Linked DNA regions of Homo sapiens: region 2 is linked to region 1. The links come from fine-mapping of genetic effects on gene expression. Tissue or cell type: whole blood. Region 1 holds a variant in brackets; the other region holds the start of a gene. Each region is shown on its reference strand, or each on the opposite one. Region 1 overlaps FLI1 (Fli-1 proto-oncogene, ETS transcription factor). Region 2 holds the start of AOC2 (amine oxidase copper containing 2).

Evidence for each region. PIP is the estimated chance that this variant, and not a neighbour inherited with it, causes the effect.
Region 2: it holds the start of AOC2, and the variant in region 1 is fine-mapped to the expression of AOC2 in whole blood (TOPMed, PIP 0.98).

What each region holds. Positions count from the first base shown.
Region 1 is chr11:128,732,784-128,737,174 of GRCh38, forward strand. The region is part of intron 1 of FLI1 (Fli-1 proto-oncogene, ETS transcription factor); the gene reads left to right. Among named protein-coding and RNA genes, the nearest start is that of SENCR, 39 kb to the left of the region's middle. RefSeq lists enhancers at 1,223-1,512, 1,266-1,811. The variant T/A (reference allele first, on the strand shown) is at 2,491.
Region 2 is chr17:42,842,523-42,846,913 of GRCh38, forward strand. It overlaps AOC2 (amine oxidase copper containing 2), which reads left to right and starts at 2,058. Exons shown (of 4, transcript NM_009590.4): 1 at 2,058-3,692. The coding sequence starts at 2,105. PSME3 (proteasome activator subunit 3) reads left to right here. Exons shown (of 11, transcript NM_005789.4): 11 at 1-1,238.

The DNA.
Region 1 (4,391 bases):
AAGAAAAAAGTAAATGATCTCTTGGGCTTGACATGCCCTTGTTTTGCCCAGAGAAGCACACTTCCTTTTACAATTGTTTGGGAGGTTTGTGGCAGAGAAAGAGAGGAAAAATCAGATCTAGAGAAGTAGAGTCCTTCAGCGACTTGCAATAGTGGCTCTTACTAAAGCATCTCATTGCTTCTCAAATGTGTCCAAGGGATGCTCAAAGCTGCTTTCTCAAAACAGGATTCTGTGTTCAACTGAGTGTGGGAAATTCAAAGGAACTTAAACAAGTCTCTTTGCATCAGGACTTATCAGAGCCTTGAATATACTAATGGAGATCCTGAAGCTCCAAGGGAAAGGGCCGCACAATGCAGTCTGCAGCGTTTTCCAATCAAATTTGATTGCAAGAGGTTTTTTTTTTTCACTGAGTACCTAACTCAGTGGCTCTGAAACTTACATCTGCACAAAATTCCCTTGGGGAGTGTAAAGAATGCTGATTCCTCGGCTCCAGCTCCAGAGATTCTAATTCACTGGATCTGGAATGGTCCCGGGAATCTTCATTTTTAACAACACTTCAAGTGATTTTGAGGCAGCAAGTCCAGGATCCACACTAGGAGAAAAACTAGTAGGATTAGTGTCCTGCTGGTGTCCCGGAAGCATCTCAGTAGCTCTACACACTCCGCCATTCAAGCTTTCTCAGCTTCCCCTCACTCTTTAGAACCTGGCTGATGCTGAGTGAACACGGTCAAGTTAGTGGGCCAGAGTAGATAAAAATAATGGAAACATGCAAAGTGAGTCACAGACAGCAAATCCAACCATTGCCTAGAATTTGTTGGGTGTCACAGGTCAAGCTACAAAGATCACATTCGCCATTTGGACTCAGTTGGCAGGAATGTTATGCATGTGTGATATAAGATGCTGTGCGCTGAAAGTCCCTGAAGCTGTGCAAATACTGGATCCAGCAGAAGTTTTCTCTGTTGTGCCCATCTGCCTTTGTCTAATTAGCCAAGGGTCACTTTGGCTGCCTCCCTTCCTTTCACATGGAGCAAAGGTACCCAGAGAGGCACATGTTGATGCATTCATATGCAAAGAAGTTCTTGTCTTTCTCTCTCTCAAGTCATTGTTCAGTGAGGAGTCAGCTCCCACATGCTCCTCCTATCTGGGCTGCAATCAGCACAGTGAGGAGAGGAGCGACAGAGCACATGATTATGACCGGGGCTTGCTGCTGAGCTGCAGGGGTTCAGAGTACTGCTACCTGTGCAATGGCAGCTTCCCCAGAGCGCCCAGGGGCTCCGAGGCCACAGACAGAAAATATCTTTGCTACCACGTGCTGAAAAATATCCCCAAAACCATTTGCCAAAGATTTGACTTGGTTAAAAGCGAGGTGGAGAGGGGTGGTTAAACAGGGGAAGCTATAGAAAGGAAAATGCGAGAAAAAGATGTTTTGCATATTAAACAGCCCTGCTTTGTCCTCCAATTCAGCCAAAACGTTTGGAGGAGGCTGCGCTGTCCACGTCCACAGTGCTCTGAACGTGCCTCATCTGATCTTGGAAGCTAAGCAGGATCGAGCTGAGTACTCAGATGGAAGAAGGCTATTCTCGTGCGTGTGCAGAGACCAAGATCATAGGGAAAAGCATGTCTAAGGTTGGGTTTTGTGTACAAATATTGTATAGGAACATAATTCAACCTGTTTAAAACAGGAGGATGATTGTGGCTGAAACCACGGTGGGAGGAAGGAACATGTTACATTTCTTCAAAGATAACTGCAGATCGAATGCCTTCATCCTTGTGACCCGCGCTGCCTGCACTGTGGTGTGTTTTGCTTGGTTTGCACCAATGCCCTGGCTGGCGGTCACTTGCTCTTGGTGGCCAGTTTCATTTCCTGGTTTTGAGAAAATGTCAGGGAGGCCTGTTGCTTGGGCATACTGTCACTGAGGGAAGTGTGCAGTTTTAAAATGTCAAAGCCAGCAGGCTCATGTCCAGTGCATGCCATCAATCAGCAAATGTCCCTGGACCCCTAATGAGCCCACTGAAAGTTCAAACGGTAAATAACGAACAGATAAAGATCTTGCCCTAAAATCGCCTACCATCTAACCAAAGGGGCAAGATCAAAAGGGAAAGAAAAATAGTATCAATATGGAAAAATAAATGTACTAATTGCTGTAGTGTTTGTGGGCAAAGAATGCAGCTGAGAAAGTGCAGCCTCGTGGAAAGGGCCCCACGGAAGGGAGTCCAGAGGGTTGGCCTCACACTCTTCCCCTTCCCGCTTTATGACCACGAACGTAGTCCTTCAGAACCTTTGTTTCTTCATCAGCAAAGTGGGGGAGGGGAATAATCCTGCCTTCTTCTCCAGTTTATTAGAGTAATTAAATAAGATTATAGATGTGGGAAGGCTCCTATTAAGATCAATGTCTTAAACTATAAAATAATCTACAATTTTCCTTGTCATTATTATTACTGATAACAACAAAATGAGGGGAAATAAGTCTAGAAAATGCATCATCTGCC[T/A]GTTCCATTAAAAAGAGACAGAGGCAGAGATGGAGCTGGACACAAGAATTCAACCAGCCTAGGACTTTGTTCTGGCACCTCAGTGTATATTTAAAGTCCTGTATAATAACATAGAAGTAATCATGGTTATCGCTTATTTGTATTGATGGATTTAAGGTGGGCTTTTTATTTCTAAGGTTTGGATACATCTAAGAAAATAGCATACTTCCTAAGATACCATTTGATTTTAATTTTCAGAGAGCTGATCACCAATTTGGGAGAACTTTGTGACTGTATGTTTGGTATAATTCCTTTAGAGATCAATTTGATGATGGAGAAATAATCCTCACATTATCCACATTATCAGATGTCTAGATAAGATAGGAAAGGTAACTTTATCACAGCTGTGTGACCCATGATGGCCTAGGTAGCTGAGTGAACCAGAAGTCTGAACTTGGAAACTAAGTTGTAAAGTTCTTATGAACTTCCTAGGGCTTCCTGAGCCTCCCCCCACCTTTAGATGCCAAGTCTCTTTGCAAATTCATATCATTCCTGCAAACAGAAAATAGTATTTAGAATAATAAGATGTTTTTCAAATTTTCCTTCAAGGGTCCTATGAGCTGGCCTGATAAATTGTTTAACTTTGAAGGGAATTTTGAACAAATAGGACAAGACAATCGAAACACGTATCTAGAATTAGGACATGGTTGATCCCGAAGTTCTTAAATACTGAAACCTCCTTGTGGTATGCAGAGGCCAAATTGATCATCTTTAGGCAGAGATTCCTTAGACATGATCGATGAGGCTATCCATCTAGCGTAACACTGAGACTTTCTTGTGTAAACCCCTCACACCCACTAAACAGGAAATGCAAGCTACTAGAGCTGAACATTCAACCACCCCCTAAGTCCCCACCCTCCACCCCCGCCCAGCATAAGAACATTATTCTTTGCTTTCCTTTCCGAAGAGCTGTAGGCATTCATTCATATATGCAGAGCAATCAGACATCATTAGACAAAGAACACCTGATAATAATTCTCACATTTTGGAATCTTAAGAAACTTCCAATGAAAGGGGTGATACGAGTTGGTAAGCCACAGCTTTTGGCGGTAGCATGAGCCCTCTGGCTTCTGAAACCCTAGAGGCCACAGATAAGATACACTCTTGTAGCAGGCTTGTCATACTTGAAATTCTAACTGGTAGCTTGATATCCTGAGTTGCTTTCTCACTTGAGCAACTTTGGTTGAGAATGTAGGAACCTGGAAAGATTTCTTGAGACATGCTCATTTTAGACACACCCAGAAACATGCCAGGTACAGATGACAATTTCCACTATAGGTAAAACATCTCAAAACAGAAGCCTAAGCTGACAGTGGACCAATAACTGCATTGTTTATTGGTTTCCCAAGGCAAATGTTCAGCAAATTCTGTATATATAATCAACAGAAAATTTTGTTCAGATTCTAGAAAAGATAGCTGCTGTTTTGTATATGTGTGTACTTTCTGCTATAGTAGTATTTGCATAAGTTAAATATTTTCAGTGCAATTTTTATTAGTTTTCAAAATGCACTTTTGTGGGTATCTGTGTGTATGCAGGTGTGTGGGGAGAACCATGAACAAGACAAAGACCCCTTGTCACTGAGGGCAGAGCCTGACTCAGCATCCCAATACAGCCCCTGGTTTGCATTCTTCCCAAAGGAGGCACATTCTAACAAACAAACAACCATGCCAAGCCTCCGACCACAAACCCAACCAAACATTTTCAAAAAGATGTATATATTTCTGTGAAAGAATATGGATATCTTTCAGTGCTCAAGAGGCAGTATTCTGCAGTAGATCTAACTCAAGTGGATAGGGACTTCGGAAAGCCCTTTTTCAAACTGAGTTTGTTGAATCCAGCTAGCTACATGGAAGGGATGGCA
Region 2 (4,391 bases), not on the chromosome of region 1:
AGTTTTCAGTTGGGGTGAAGGTTTCTGCAAGTGTGAGGTCCAGATGCTGCTGCTCATGTTGGGCTTTCCTTTTGGGAACTATTTCTCTTTATTTATAGTGTCGGGCTTCCGGGGAAAGCAATCATTGGTGTGTATGTGTATGTGCATGCACACACGTGCATATACACATTTGTGTATGTGGAAATGTGCTGGGCAAGTCAAAACTATAGAAGAGTTGCCTCCTGTCTCTCGAATCTTCCAGAGATATCACTTAATTGTTAACAGCTTTTGTGTTAATCCCCTTCAGCCCCTAGCTCTTTTATTCTACCACGGCTGGAGAGTTGATACCTGCAGTCAGCCTGCCAGTGACTCTTAGTGTCTGTTTCTGACTTATTTTTCCTGTCTCTGTCTTCCAACCCCCAATAATATTTCCACCGGGGATGCATCATTTTTACTCCCAATATTCTGTAGAGAGGGAGTCAGGATGCTGTCTTCCCACGAATAGTACTCAGTAACAAACCAATTGCATTTTAGTTGGGCAGTGCTCCCACCCACCCTCCAGATCCCTTCCAGCTAAAACCCTTCCCCCTTCCCTCCATGTGTTTCTCAGTTTCCCGTTTCGTTTGTTGGACTGTTCCACTGCCCCTCCTCCTCACCCTATCACCCATGGATCGTAATGTAAAATTCTTTTACCATGTCAAGAAATTATTAAAAATACAGGTACTTTGACCTCTTTCTAAAGCCGCAGACCCTGGTGCAATGCTCTGGTGGCTAGGGATGTACTCATGCTCATATGTGTGCACGCTTGGACACCCACCTCCATGGACACCTAGCCACCCTGTTGTGTGTCCTTATGCCAGTTGAGCTGAATCTTTTCCCCAGTATAGTGGAAAGACTGAGGCTTCTGCCTACTGAGCAAGGTTGGGTGCTTCATTTGTGTTCAGTCTGAATTATGGGAAAGTTAGCTCTTCCCAGACCTAAGCTGCCTTCTCTCCCTACTTTCAGAAGATCCTAGTTCCTTCCTTCCCGAGTGATACCCATGAACTGCCAGTAGAGGCTGCTATCGTTCCATGTGTAAGGAATGAACTGGTTCAAGGCGCGTCCTACCCAGTCATTTTCTTTACCTTATACTAATTCTTCCTGAATAATGTCTTCAGTTTCTTGAGGAGACTCCTAGTTTTGGTTTTCAAATTACTTGGAGGGCTGCCTAGGAATCTATCTCCCTCTGAAATAAAGTTTCCTCATCTTCCACCTTGCAAGTAGCCTTCTGGTTTCCAATGATCCCCTCGTTGTCTCTGTAAAAAGAGTTTAAGGTCTTGAACAATGGAGGAGCAGCTGCTCTGTTCTGTTTCAGAGATGACTACCAAAAGCTAGCGGTTTGTGAGTGCCTCCCCTGTGCCAGGCTGTTAAGTACCTAATGTGCATGATCACATTTAATCTTCAGGAATCTATAGGATAGTTGTATCTATTTGTTACAGATGAGGACACTGAGACTCAGGATAAGTATTTCCGCTAAGGTTACACAGCTGAGGGAACTGGGATTGGTGGACAAACCTGATTACTAAGCCCAGGCCCTCAGCCACTCCACTGGTTGGAAATGGCCTGACTACAAATCAAGGGCTTGGCATTAGGCAACAAGTAGAATTCAGTGCTTACTGCTGAACATGGCAGTGAATCCTGGAGCTGTTGGGATGCAGTTCCTGCCAGGAGGTAGGAAAATGGACAGCTTAGTGCTTGCATGCAGGCTGCAGAACTTAATTGGGCATCTGAGGTTTGTACTCTTCCTGAGACCCATTCCAGGTGGAAACTGGAGGTTAGCATCGTTAACCCAGATTCCCTTTCATCTGGTCTAAATGATGGAAATCAGTAGTTGGTACTGACTGCTACCAGTGGGAGTTCAGGGGCAAGGAAGAGGCTATGCATGTGGAAGCAGTGCCCTGGGCCAAACCACAGGACAGAAAATTGGAACAGAATTACATAAATCAAGGTCAGAAATTTCCTGCCCAACCCATGGGGTGGAGTTTTCTCCCTTCCTATCCATCCTAGCGAATATAAACCCCGACTTGATGTCAGTAACTGGAAGGAGCAGCTGTTAGAATTCTGATTTCAGCTCTCAGCATCCACCATGCATCTCAAGATAGTCCTGGCGTTCCTGGCACTGTCCCTCATTACCATCTTTGCCCTGGCCTATGTTTTGCTGACCAGCCCAGGTGGTTCCAGCCAGCCTCCCCACTGCCCCTCTGTATCCCATAGGGCCCAGCCCTGGCCACACCCTGGCCAGAGCCAGCTGTTTGCAGACCTGAGCCGAGAGGAGTTGACAGCTGTGATGCGCTTTCTGACCCAGCGGCTGGGGCCAGGGCTGGTGGACGCAGCCCAGGCTCAGCCCTCGGACAACTGCATCTTCTCAGTGGAGCTGCAGCTGCCCCCCAAGGCTGCAGCCCTGGCCCACCTGGACAGGGGGAGCCCCCCACCTGCCCGGGAGGCACTGGCCATCGTCCTCTTTGGTGGACAACCCCAACCCAATGTGAGTGAGCTGGTGGTGGGGCCGCTGCCTCACCCCTCGTACATGCGGGATGTGACTGTGGAGCGTCACGGCGGGCCCCTGCCCTATCACCGTCGCCCGGTGCTGAGAGCTGAGTTTACACAGATGTGGAGGCATCTGAAAGAGGTGGAGCTACCCAAGGCACCCATCTTCCTGTCGTCCACCTTCAACTACAATGGCTCTACCCTGGCAGCTGTGCATGCCACCCCTCGGGGCTTGCGCTCAGGGGACCGAGCTACCTGGATGGCCCTCTACCATAACATCTCAGGGGTTGGTCTTTTCCTTCACCCCGTGGGGCTGGAGCTACTACTGGACCACAGGGCCCTGGACCCTGCCCACTGGACTGTCCAGCAGGTCTTCTACCTTGGGCACTACTATGCAGACTTGGGCCAGTTGGAACGGGAGTTTAAGTCTGGCCGGTTGGAAGTGGTTAGAGTCCCTCTACCTCCACCAAATGGAGCTTCATCCCTGAGGTCTCGGAACTCTCCAGGTCCTCTTCCCCCTCTTCAGTTCTCGCCCCAGGGTTCCCAGTACAGTGTGCAAGGAAACCTGGTGGTATCCTCCCTCTGGTCATTTACCTTTGGCCATGGGGTGTTCAGCGGCCTGAGGATTTTTGATGTTCGGTTCCAGGGTGAGCGAATAGCCTATGAAGTCAGTGTCCAGGAGTGTGTATCTATCTATGGTGCCGATTCACCCAAGACGATGCTGACTCGCTATTTGGATAGCAGCTTTGGACTCGGCCGTAACAGCCGAGGCTTGGTGCGGGGAGTGGACTGCCCCTATCAAGCCACGATGGTGGACATCCATATATTAGTGGGCAAAGGGGCAGTCCAGCTGCTTCCAGGGGCTGTGTGTGTATTTGAGGAAGCCCAGGGACTGCCCCTTCGAAGGCACCACAATTACCTTCAAAATCATTTCTATGGTGGTTTGGCCAGCTCAGCCCTTGTGGTCAGGTCTGTGTCATCTGTGGGCAACTATGACTACATTTGGGACTTTGTGTTGTACCCAAATGGGGCACTTGAAGGGCGGGTCCATGCCACGGGTTATATCAACACAGCTTTCCTGAAAGGGGGAGAGGAGGGCCTCCTCTTTGGGAACCGTGTGGGGGAAAGAGTGCTGGGAACGGTGCACACACATGCCTTCCACTTCAAGCTGGACCTGGATGTGGCAGGTGAGTGCTGAGGGGATGAGGATGGAGACTTGGGGGCGGGGTCAGGTGGGGTGGAGGGAAGGGAAGGGAATCTCCCAGGTCAAGCTGAAATAACAAGTGGCAAGAGCAGGGTGTTCCAACACCACAGCTCTAGTGGCAACAGGGCAGGGACTGTTTGAGCATATTCAGTGCAGTGAGTCTGGTACTGGGCTACTGGGTATCTGGTAAAAGGTGAAAAGAGTTCCCCCGCCCAGCCCCTCTGACTTGCTATGATTGTGAAACTAGTTTAAATGTAATGGCTGGGCATGATTGCCTTAGCCTCAAGTGACACTGGGTGGGTGAACTGGCCCAATGGGGCTGGAGTTGGAGCACTTTGCTTCTTCCTAATTCTGAGGGTCAGTAGGGGTGGGGAGGGCAGGGTCCTGAGCCGAGGTCGGAAGAAGTCTGTCCAGAGTCTTCAGGGTGGGGGTCGACCTGGGGCTTAGGAAGGAGAGGGTAGCAAAGCTGGGGTTGCTCCCCAGGATAGGGCCACTCCTCATCGGGAGGGCCATCCCATTCCTGTCATCACAGTTGACTCATGGCAGGCACACAGCTTGCTGCAAGTATGGAAAGAGATTTCTCAAGCACAAAGGGCTCAAAGCACACAGAGGACTTGCTGTTCCTGACAGACTTTGTCAAGGACAGAAAGGAACTTACAGACTCACACACTGATCCACAAAG